2 separate regions of the Homo sapiens genome follow, and region 2 is linked to region 1. Evidence: fine-mapped expression QTL. A gene starts in region 1. The other region holds a variant in brackets. All regions are shown on one strand. Distances are from middle to middle. Region 1 holds the start of ZNF792 (zinc finger protein 792). Region 2 overlaps ZNF30 (zinc finger protein 30).

Region 1 (4,394 bases):
GGCTGTTATCTTTGCTTCAAAGTTAAACTGTAAACTGAGTTTCTCCCAAAGTTAGTTAGGCCTATGCTCAGGAACGAACAAGGACAGCTTGGAGGTTAGAAGCAAGATGGAGTTGGTTAGGTCAGATCTCTCACTGTCATAATTTTCTCAGTTATAATTTTTACAAAGGTGGTTTCACCATATGACATGTAGTATCGGGGGAACCCACCCCCGATAATTCAATGTGGGTTCTTTTCTATTTTCCCTAAGTGTCGGCTGGTCTGAGAAATAAAGGGAAAGAGTACAAAAGAGATAAATTTTAAAGCTGGGTGTCTGGGGGAGACATCACATGTCAGCAGGTTCCGTGATGCCCCCGAGCCATAAAACCAGCAAGTTTTTATTGGCAATTTTCAAAGGGGAGGGAGTGTACGAATAGGGTGTGGGTCACAGAGATCACATGCTTTAAGGGCAACAAAAGATCACAAGGCAGAAGGTCAGGGCGAGATCACAAGGTCAGGGCAAAACTAGAATCACTCATGAGCTTCCATGTCCTGCTGTGCACGCATTGTCATTTATAAACATCTTAACAGGGTTCAAGAGCAGAGAACTGGTCTGACTAGAGTTCGCCAGGCTGGAATTTCCTAATCCTAGCAAGCCTGGGGGCGCTGCAGGAGACTAGGGTGTGTTTCATCCCTATCTACATGTGCATAAGGCAGACACTCCCAGGGCAGCCATTTTAGAGGCACTGCCCTGGGAATGCATTATTTTCCCAGGGCTGTTAATTATTAATATTCCTTACTGGGGAAAGAATTCAGCGATATTTCTCTTACCCGTTTTTGGTAATAGGAGAAATATGGCTCTGTCCTGCCCGTCCCACAGGCAGCCAGACTTTAAGGTTATCTCCCTTGTTCCCTGAAAATCGCTGTTATCCTGTTCTTAAGGTGCCCAGATTTCATATTGTTCAAACACACATGCCCTACAAACAATCTGTGCAGTTAACGCAATCATCACAGGGTCCTGAGATGACATACATCCTCAGCTTACGAAGATGACAGGATTAAGAGATTAAAGTAAAGTCAGGCATAGGAAATCACAAGAGTATTGATTGGGGAAGCGATACATGTCCATGAAATCTTCACAATTTATGTTCAGAGATTGCAGTAAAGACAGGCATAAGAAATTATAAAAGTATTAATTTGGGGAACTAATAAATGTCCATGAAATCTTCACAATTAATGTTCTTCTGTCACGGCTTCAGCAGGTCCCTCCGTTCGGGGTCCCTGACTTCCTGCAACAATGTAGTGTTATTTTTCCCATTTTATTTACTGGATTTCAATGAGAGTCCCTGCTGTAAAGTTGGAGCCAGCATTGGAGTCCCCAGAGGGCTTGTTAAAACAGAGAAGGAGGCCTGGCACCATGGCTCACTCCTGCAATTCCCAACACTTTGGGAGGCCGAGGTGAGAGGATCACTTGAGCTCAGGAGTTTGAGACCAGCCTAGGCATCACAGGGAGATCCAGTCTCTACAAAAAATTTTAAAATTAGCTGTGTATGATGGTGCACGCCTGTATCCCATCTACCTGGTAGGCTGAGGCAGGAGGATAGCTTGAGCCCGAGATGGAGGCTGCAGTGAGCTATGATCAGGCCACTGCACTCCAGCCTGGACAACAGAACGAGACCCATCCCCCCCGCCCCCCCCGCAAAAAGTAGAGAAGGCTGAATCCCATCCCCAGAATTTCTGAGTCCTTAGATTTAAGTTGTTGCCCCAGAACCTGCATTTTCAGCCAGTCCCCAGGTGATGCTGATGTTGCTGGTTTGAGAAGCCCTGAATCAGAGCGACATTTAATATTACAACGCAAAGACCCCGCCCATTGGGTACTATCCCCATTTTCCAGTGTGAATTTAGGTCCCTTAGGGGTGAAGCGGCTGGCCGATGCCCACACGCGCAGGAAGAGCACTGGGGCTCTCCTCCTGGACCTCGGAGGGTGGGCGGGGTTTAGCGCGGGCGGCTGCAGGCTCGGGAGCGGCCCCTTTAAGGGGAAGGCCCGAGGGCTGCAGGCGGCGGCGGTGGAGACCCGACGAGATCCGCTCTCCTTCCCGCCCTGGACCCTCAGCCTGACGAGAGGCTGGGCAGAAACTCGCGATCCCCAGGCCCTGCCTGTGCACCAGCGGCTGGCGCCAGGCCAATGACAGTACGGGAGAGGGCAACTCTCCCGGCCGCCACGGTGGGGGCCGGAACTTCCTGCACTGCAGCCTCGCAGGTCATTTCCCGGCGGGGAGGCTGAGTCCCCAGGAGCTGGGGACCCCGAGTTGGGGGCGGGGCGGCTGGGGCTACGCCCGTGAAGCTGCCCCGCCGGCTTTCCCGGACCGCGAGGGGGACAGTGAGGCCGGGACCCCCTCCGCGCCTTTGCACCAGCCGTGACCCCTTGCAACGGGGGTACCCAGCGGAGCTGCGCGCTCTCGGCGCCCCCGGAGCCTGCGCCCCGGGCCCCTTGCGCATTTTGCACGGGGGAGACTGAGGCTAGGAGTGCGACCCTCAGCCCGGGGTCACACCTCGTCTGGGGCACGGCCAGGTGGGTGGTAGCCTCAGCCTGCGAGACCCCCTACCCCCGCCCCGTGGTTTCCCGCACCGTGGGGCCCTGCTCTGACCACAGACTCCGATGGCAGCGGCGGCGCTGCGGGACCCCGCGCAGGTGAGTGCTTGGACGTTAGGCCCTTCGCTGTCGGCCCCCCACGCTTCTGTTCTCGGTGTTGAGACGCAAAAGATGGCTTTGTTCTAGGACTTTTCGCCTTTCCCATTTCCTTGCTTTTGAGTCAGGGGACCCTGGAAGGGAGTTGCTCCCAGCTAGGATCCTGAATCAGGGCAGGGTTTATATAAAGTGGCTTCCGTTGCTGAAATGTAATGGGATGGAGGGAGAAAGGGCTTTGTAGGCACAGGAACCAGCGTGCGCAAAAGCTTGGGGGTGGGGTGGGGCACGGTGTGGAGACTGAGTTGGGAGTGTTCAAGGAACCCCACCCAGGTCAGTGTTATTAATATTATGTCTGCTGGAACCAGAGAGCAGGTGGGCTGAAGACAGCTCAGAACGGCAGAGCTGGGCCTCTGTTCTGAGGGTGTTGGGAGCCATGGAAGGTTTAGGGCAGAGGAGGAAGATGCTGTGACTCAGGTCTTAACAGGCTCCCTGTGGATGCACAGTGGAGAACTGAATATGGAGTGAGCCGCAAGCAGGGATGCCAAGGAGTAGCCTAATGGAATAGCCCAGGCCAGTGCTGCGGCTGGCCGGACCAGAGTGAGGACTGGAGGTAGAGGAAGTGATTGGGAACTTGATGTCTTTTAAGTCAAGCTGACCAAATTTTCCGATGTGGAGGGTGAGAAAGAGGAGGGAAGAATCCATGGTTTTTGGTTTGATGAATCCAGCTTTATGAACTGAGAAGTTGGTTTTAGGAGGAATTTTCCATGGAAGCAGTAGAAGTTAGGTTTTGGCCAAGTTGAGCCTGTGATGTCCCAGAGACCCCCAAATGGAGTTGAAGAGTGGGCCGCTGAACACACAGTTCGGGTGTTCTGAGGGAGTTGTTAAGGTAATGAGAGACTGGATATTCATTCGAACAATGGCCAGATCATGTATACAAATAGAACTCTGCCCCAGAACCTGCCCAGGAAACCAACCCCCTTATCTACAATAAACAACCCATACAGCAGGAAGCCAGCCTGCTGTCTGTCAGACCCACAGGAAGCCAGATTGCTATCTGGACTGACAATCCAGGAAGTAAAAACAATAACTTCTGTAATGAGCAGTCCCAAATGGCCAGGGTTTGATTAATAACAGACAGCTTTCCTCATTTTTGCTCCTGCTTCTGATTTAAGAACAACCAGAGAAAGGCAGATACGCACCCTAACCAATCACATAGGATGCCCACTTCTAGTTCACCCACCTACGAACAGGAGCCTCCAACCAGGGCACGCCTGAAGCCTTCCTTTTCTTTTGCTATAAAACTCTCCCACTCCCGGCTTGCATTGAGTCTCTCTTGCTATAGTGAGCTTTGAGTAAGTAGCCTTGGCTTTTCTCATTTCATTGGTCTTTGTTTATTTCAACAGTTAGAAACATCCAAAATGTGACATCTGGTGTGTGGACGGGAGTGTAGCTGTGTGTGAGATTTAGGAGGTGAAACTTCAGGTCATGGTGACAATGATGTTAAAAAAAAGAGGAAGGTGGGGCTGGAAAACTGAGAGCAGGGTTCTTGCTTGGGGACTGTGGCTTGTTTGGCATCATAAAGACAGGTGAGGAACAGTAGTGGTCATGGTGGTGATGGAGGGGCTATGTGGGTGTATCAGAGGGTCTGGCAGGTGGCCAGATCATCCCAAAGAGTGTAGACATGAATGAGATGGATGCTGAGGCTTAGCAGTAGAGGAGGTAATATT
Region 2 (4,394 bases), 21 kb after region 1:
TGAACTGTGCCCAGCTCAGATGCCCAGTTTAATTGAGGTCTCAATTTTTCTCTTTTTCTTTGAGACAGAGTCTAGCTCTGTCACCAGGCTGAAGTGCAGTGGCATGATCTTGGCTCACTGCAAGCTCCACCTCCCAGGTTTATGCCTTTCTCCTGTCTCAGCCTCCTGAGTAGCTGGGACTACAGGTGCCCGCCACCACACCCAGCTATTTTTTTTTGTATTTTTAGTGGAGATGGGGGTTTCACCGTGTTAGCCAGGATGGTCTTGATCTCCTGACCTCGTGATCCGCCTGCCTCAGCCTCCCAAAGTGCTGGGATTACAGGCTTCAGCCACCAAGCCTGGCTTTTTTTTTTTTTTTTTAATAAGAATGTAGGTTCTATTATCACCATTTTAAAACAATGCTGTAAGGTGATAAGTGTAGTGCCTAATATCTAACTGGCTGCAAGGCAGTGGAATAACAATGATGATAGTTAACGTGAGTGCCATGGCTAAAGGCTTTCATTACATTGTTAACTGGTTTTAAAAAATAATGAATTATTTGAAGTTCAGCAGTGGTTTAGGAGGTCCAAGGTTTTTTATTCACTTGTTCATACAATCACATTAGAATAAATGCATCATATAAAAGTTCATGCTGTCAGTGCTGTAACCATTAAGTAATAACGTTTCCCACTTTTTCTGAATGGTCCACCAGTATAAATATTGGTATTACAAACCTATAAATGACAAAGGAATATTCTTATGTTTTCTGAGTTATATTATGAATTATAAGATGAGAATAGACCTGCCAATATTCTTCACATTTGAAAGTTTCCTACCAGCATAAATTCCCCGATGTTCAACAATGTTTGAGCCACACACGAAGCACTTCCCACACTCCTCAGACTCTTAGGGTATAACACTCATATGTTTTCTCAGATGCACTTTAAGGGCTGAACTGTATCTAAAGGTCTTCCCACATTTTTTGCATTTAAAGGGTTTCTCACCAGTGTGTACCCGCTGATGTTCAGTAAGGAATGAATTAAGTCTAAAGGCCTTCCCGCATTCCTTACATTCAAAAGGTTTCTCACCAGTGTGAACACTCTGATGTCCAATAAGTTGTCCATAAACAGTAAAGGCTTTCCCACATTTGTTACATTCATAGGGTTTCTCCCCAGTATGAATTCTTTGATGCTGAACAAGGTATGAGCCAGAACTGAAGGCCTTGCCACACTCCTTACACTCATAGGGCTTCTTACCAGTATGGATTCTGCTATGTTGTACAAGGTACGAGGCTCGACTAAAAGTCTTTCCACATTCCTTACATTCATAGGGCTTTACATCAGTATGAATTTTCCGATGCTGTGTGAGATGTACGTGCACTCTGAAGGCCTTGCCACATTCCTTACACTCATAGGGTTTCTCTCCAGTATGAACCCTTTGATGTACGGTAAGCTGATGGCGACTAATAAAGGCTTTGCCACATTCCTTACATTCATAGGGTTTCTCCCCAGTATGGATCCTCTGATGCTGAACAAGGTATGAGCCAGTACTAAAGGCCTTGCCACACTCCTTACATTCATAGGGCTTCTCGCCAGTGTGAAGTCTTCCATGTTGAACAAGATATGAGGCACGACTGAAGGTTCTCCCGCATTCCTTGCATCCGTAGGGCTTTATCTCTGCATGAATTCGCTGATGTGCATGAAGGAAGGAACTAAGTCTAAAGGCCTTTCCACATTCCTTACATTCAAAAGGTTTCTCACCAGTATGAATACTCTGATGTCGAGTAAGCTGTCCATACACAGTGAAGGACTTCCCACACTCCTTACATTCATAGGGTTTCTCGCCAGTATGAATTCTCTGATGCTTAGCAAGGGGTGAGCTAGTGCTAAAGGCCTTCCCACATTCTTTGCATTCGTAAGGTTTTTCACTGGTATGAATTCGCTGATGTTGAACCAGGTATGAAAAGGTACTGAAGGCCTTCCCACACTCCTCACACCCAAAGGGTTTTTCACCAGTGTGAGTACTCTGATGCCGGGTAAGCTTTCCATATACTAGAAAAGCTTTCCCACATTCCCCGCACTCATATGGTTTCTTCCCAGTATGAATACTCTTATGTACTGTAAGTTGATAGCTACCACTAATAGTCTTTCCACATTGCTTACATTTGAGTGGCTTCTCACCAGTGTGAATTCTCCCATGCTTAACAAAGGCTGAGCCACTGATAAAGGCCTTCCCACATTTTTCATATTTATAGGGTTTCTCACCAACATGCAATCTCTGATGTATGGTGAGTTGATGTCCATTACTAAAGTTCTTCCCACATTCTTTACATCTGTTGGGTTTTTCACTACTATGTATTCTTTCATGTTGAACAGGCTTTGAGTCTTGACAAAGGGTCTTTCCATATTCC[T/C]GACATTCACGTGGTTTCTGTCTACTTATTTTCTGATGTAGAGCAAAAGATGGACAGTTTTCAGAGGTGGGCATTTCTTTACAGCCGATTGTATCATCTTCCAACTGCAAATCTGAAAGAAAATTTTAAAAATATCTTATTTTTCTATTTGAAAAAAAATTCTAGGGAAGAAAAGAGAAAAACTGAAAATAACACCAACTAGAAATAAATAGCTCAGTAATATTAAAACACCATTATGAAATTCAAAAAAAAAAAAAGGAATGCAGAGATTAACAAGTGTTTATGTAAAATAGTAAGGTTGGTGATTAGTGAAACAGTTTTCATTTAGGTGTGGATAATAATCTTTGAAGAGCCTGTTAAAAAATGGATGTTCAAGCAGCATCCCGCCCCTCTGAATCAGACATAGGGGAAGTTCCTGGACATCAATACTGTCAACCTTTCTAACAAATGTTTCTGATGCAGATGAAATTTTTATAATCCATATTTTATTGTTCCTTCTAGGGGTTTCTTGTGGCGCTTACATTAAAATCCATGTATCTTTCCACAGATAATATTGTCCCTGCTCACCTCTCAGACCTCATATCAAGACACAACTCCCTCTGTCCCATACTGACCTAATTTCCCCCTTTTAGCACCTTGACGTTCTTACAAATTTTCTCACCTTTTGGTTCCATGTGCAGGTGGCATCATCGCCTAAAAATCTTCTGGCATGTTTTGTTTGTAGACTGGAGCTTTCTTATCCTATCCATGTTTAAAATAAAATGTCACTTTATCAGGAATATGGTAAACTGCTAACTTTGTCTAAGGACGTCCATGTCTTTACTTTCTAGCACTTCATTCTTTGGTTTCCTACTGGTTTTCTTTTTCTTTTTTTCTTTTCTTTTTTTTTTTGGATAGGATCTCACTCTTGCCCCGGCTGGAGTGCAGTGGCACAACCACAGCTCAATGCAGCCTCAACCTCCCAGGCTCAGGTGATTCCCTCCCACCGCAGCCTCCTGGATAGCTGGGACTACAGGTGTGTGCCACCATGTCCAGCTAATTTTTTTGTAATTTTTATAGAGATGGGGTCTTGCCACATTGCCCAGGCTGGTCTCCAATTCCTAGGCTCAAGTCGTCCTCCCACTTCACCCTCCCAAAGTGCTGGGATTACAGGTGTGAGCCAATGAGTCCGGCCTTCTATACAAAAGAAATAATCGTAATAAAATATCTCCATACAAAGAATGATATTTTATAATTCCAATGAGAATTATCATTTGTTGTTAAAACCATGACAAGATATACTGCTAAACTGAATAAACGTGTACTTCTTGAGAATAAACTAAGATCACACAGATTATTGTTTAGTCACAAGGAGAAACATACTCAATAATGTGGGGTTGGACCATTATCACTGTAATCTAGTAAACAGTCTTTTAATGAGGAGCACGGCCAGACATTAGATATCTGCTGATAAGATACACATTGCCTCCTTTGATATATTGAGACAAAACTGTTTACCACCTTTTAAAATATTGCCATATTATTTGATAAGCCCATAGGACGAGATCACTGGGGTGGCCACTAAAGCACTGGGTTTGTACACAAAAACCAACTGCAAAACTGGATTAGATATGTTAACTCACTGAACTCAATACCTGCCTTTAGGATGGTTCCTGTTATCTCCTAGGATCACTGTGGCCCATTCATCCCCCTTGTCAGAAAAAGAGACCTTTAGATAACTTAATTCAAAGAGGAGAGAAACTGGACCTGAGTTTGTGTCAAAAAACTTCAGTCAGGCTGGGTGCAGTGGCTCACGCCTGTAATCCCAGCACTTTGGGAAACCAGTGGGCAGATCATGAAGTCAGGAGTTCAAGACCAGCCTGGCCAACATGGCAAAACCCTGTCTCTACTAAAAATACAAAAATTAGCTGGGCATGGTGGCGGGCACTTGTAATCCCAGCTACTTGGGAGGCTGAGGCAGGAGAATCACTTGAACCTGGGAGGCAGAGGCTGCAGTAAGCCAAGA

What was found. PIP is the estimated chance that this variant, and not a neighbour inherited with it, causes the effect. A credible set is the group of variants that fine-mapping cannot tell apart.
Region 2: its variant is the best candidate, but not a certain one, in a credible set for the expression of ZNF792 in breast (GTEx, PIP 0.53).

Annotation. Positions count from the first base shown.
Region 1 is chr19:34,961,906-34,966,299 of GRCh38, reverse strand. It overlaps ZNF792 (zinc finger protein 792), which reads left to right and starts at 2,071. Exons shown (of 4, transcript NM_175872.5): 1 at 2,071-2,670. The coding sequence starts at 2,638. It overlaps LOC124904699 (a long non-coding RNA gene), which reads right to left and starts at 2,874. Exons shown (of 2, transcript XR_007067236.1): 1 at 2,627-2,874. RefSeq lists silencers at 2,310-2,569, 2,680-2,729.
Region 2 is chr19:34,941,330-34,945,723 of GRCh38, reverse strand. It overlaps ZNF30 (zinc finger protein 30), which reads right to left. Exons shown (of 5, transcript NM_194325.3): 5 at 556-2,501. The coding sequence ends at 886. Among named protein-coding and RNA genes, the nearest start is that of ZNF30, 17 kb to the right of the region's middle. The variant T/C (reference allele first, on the strand shown) is at 2,390.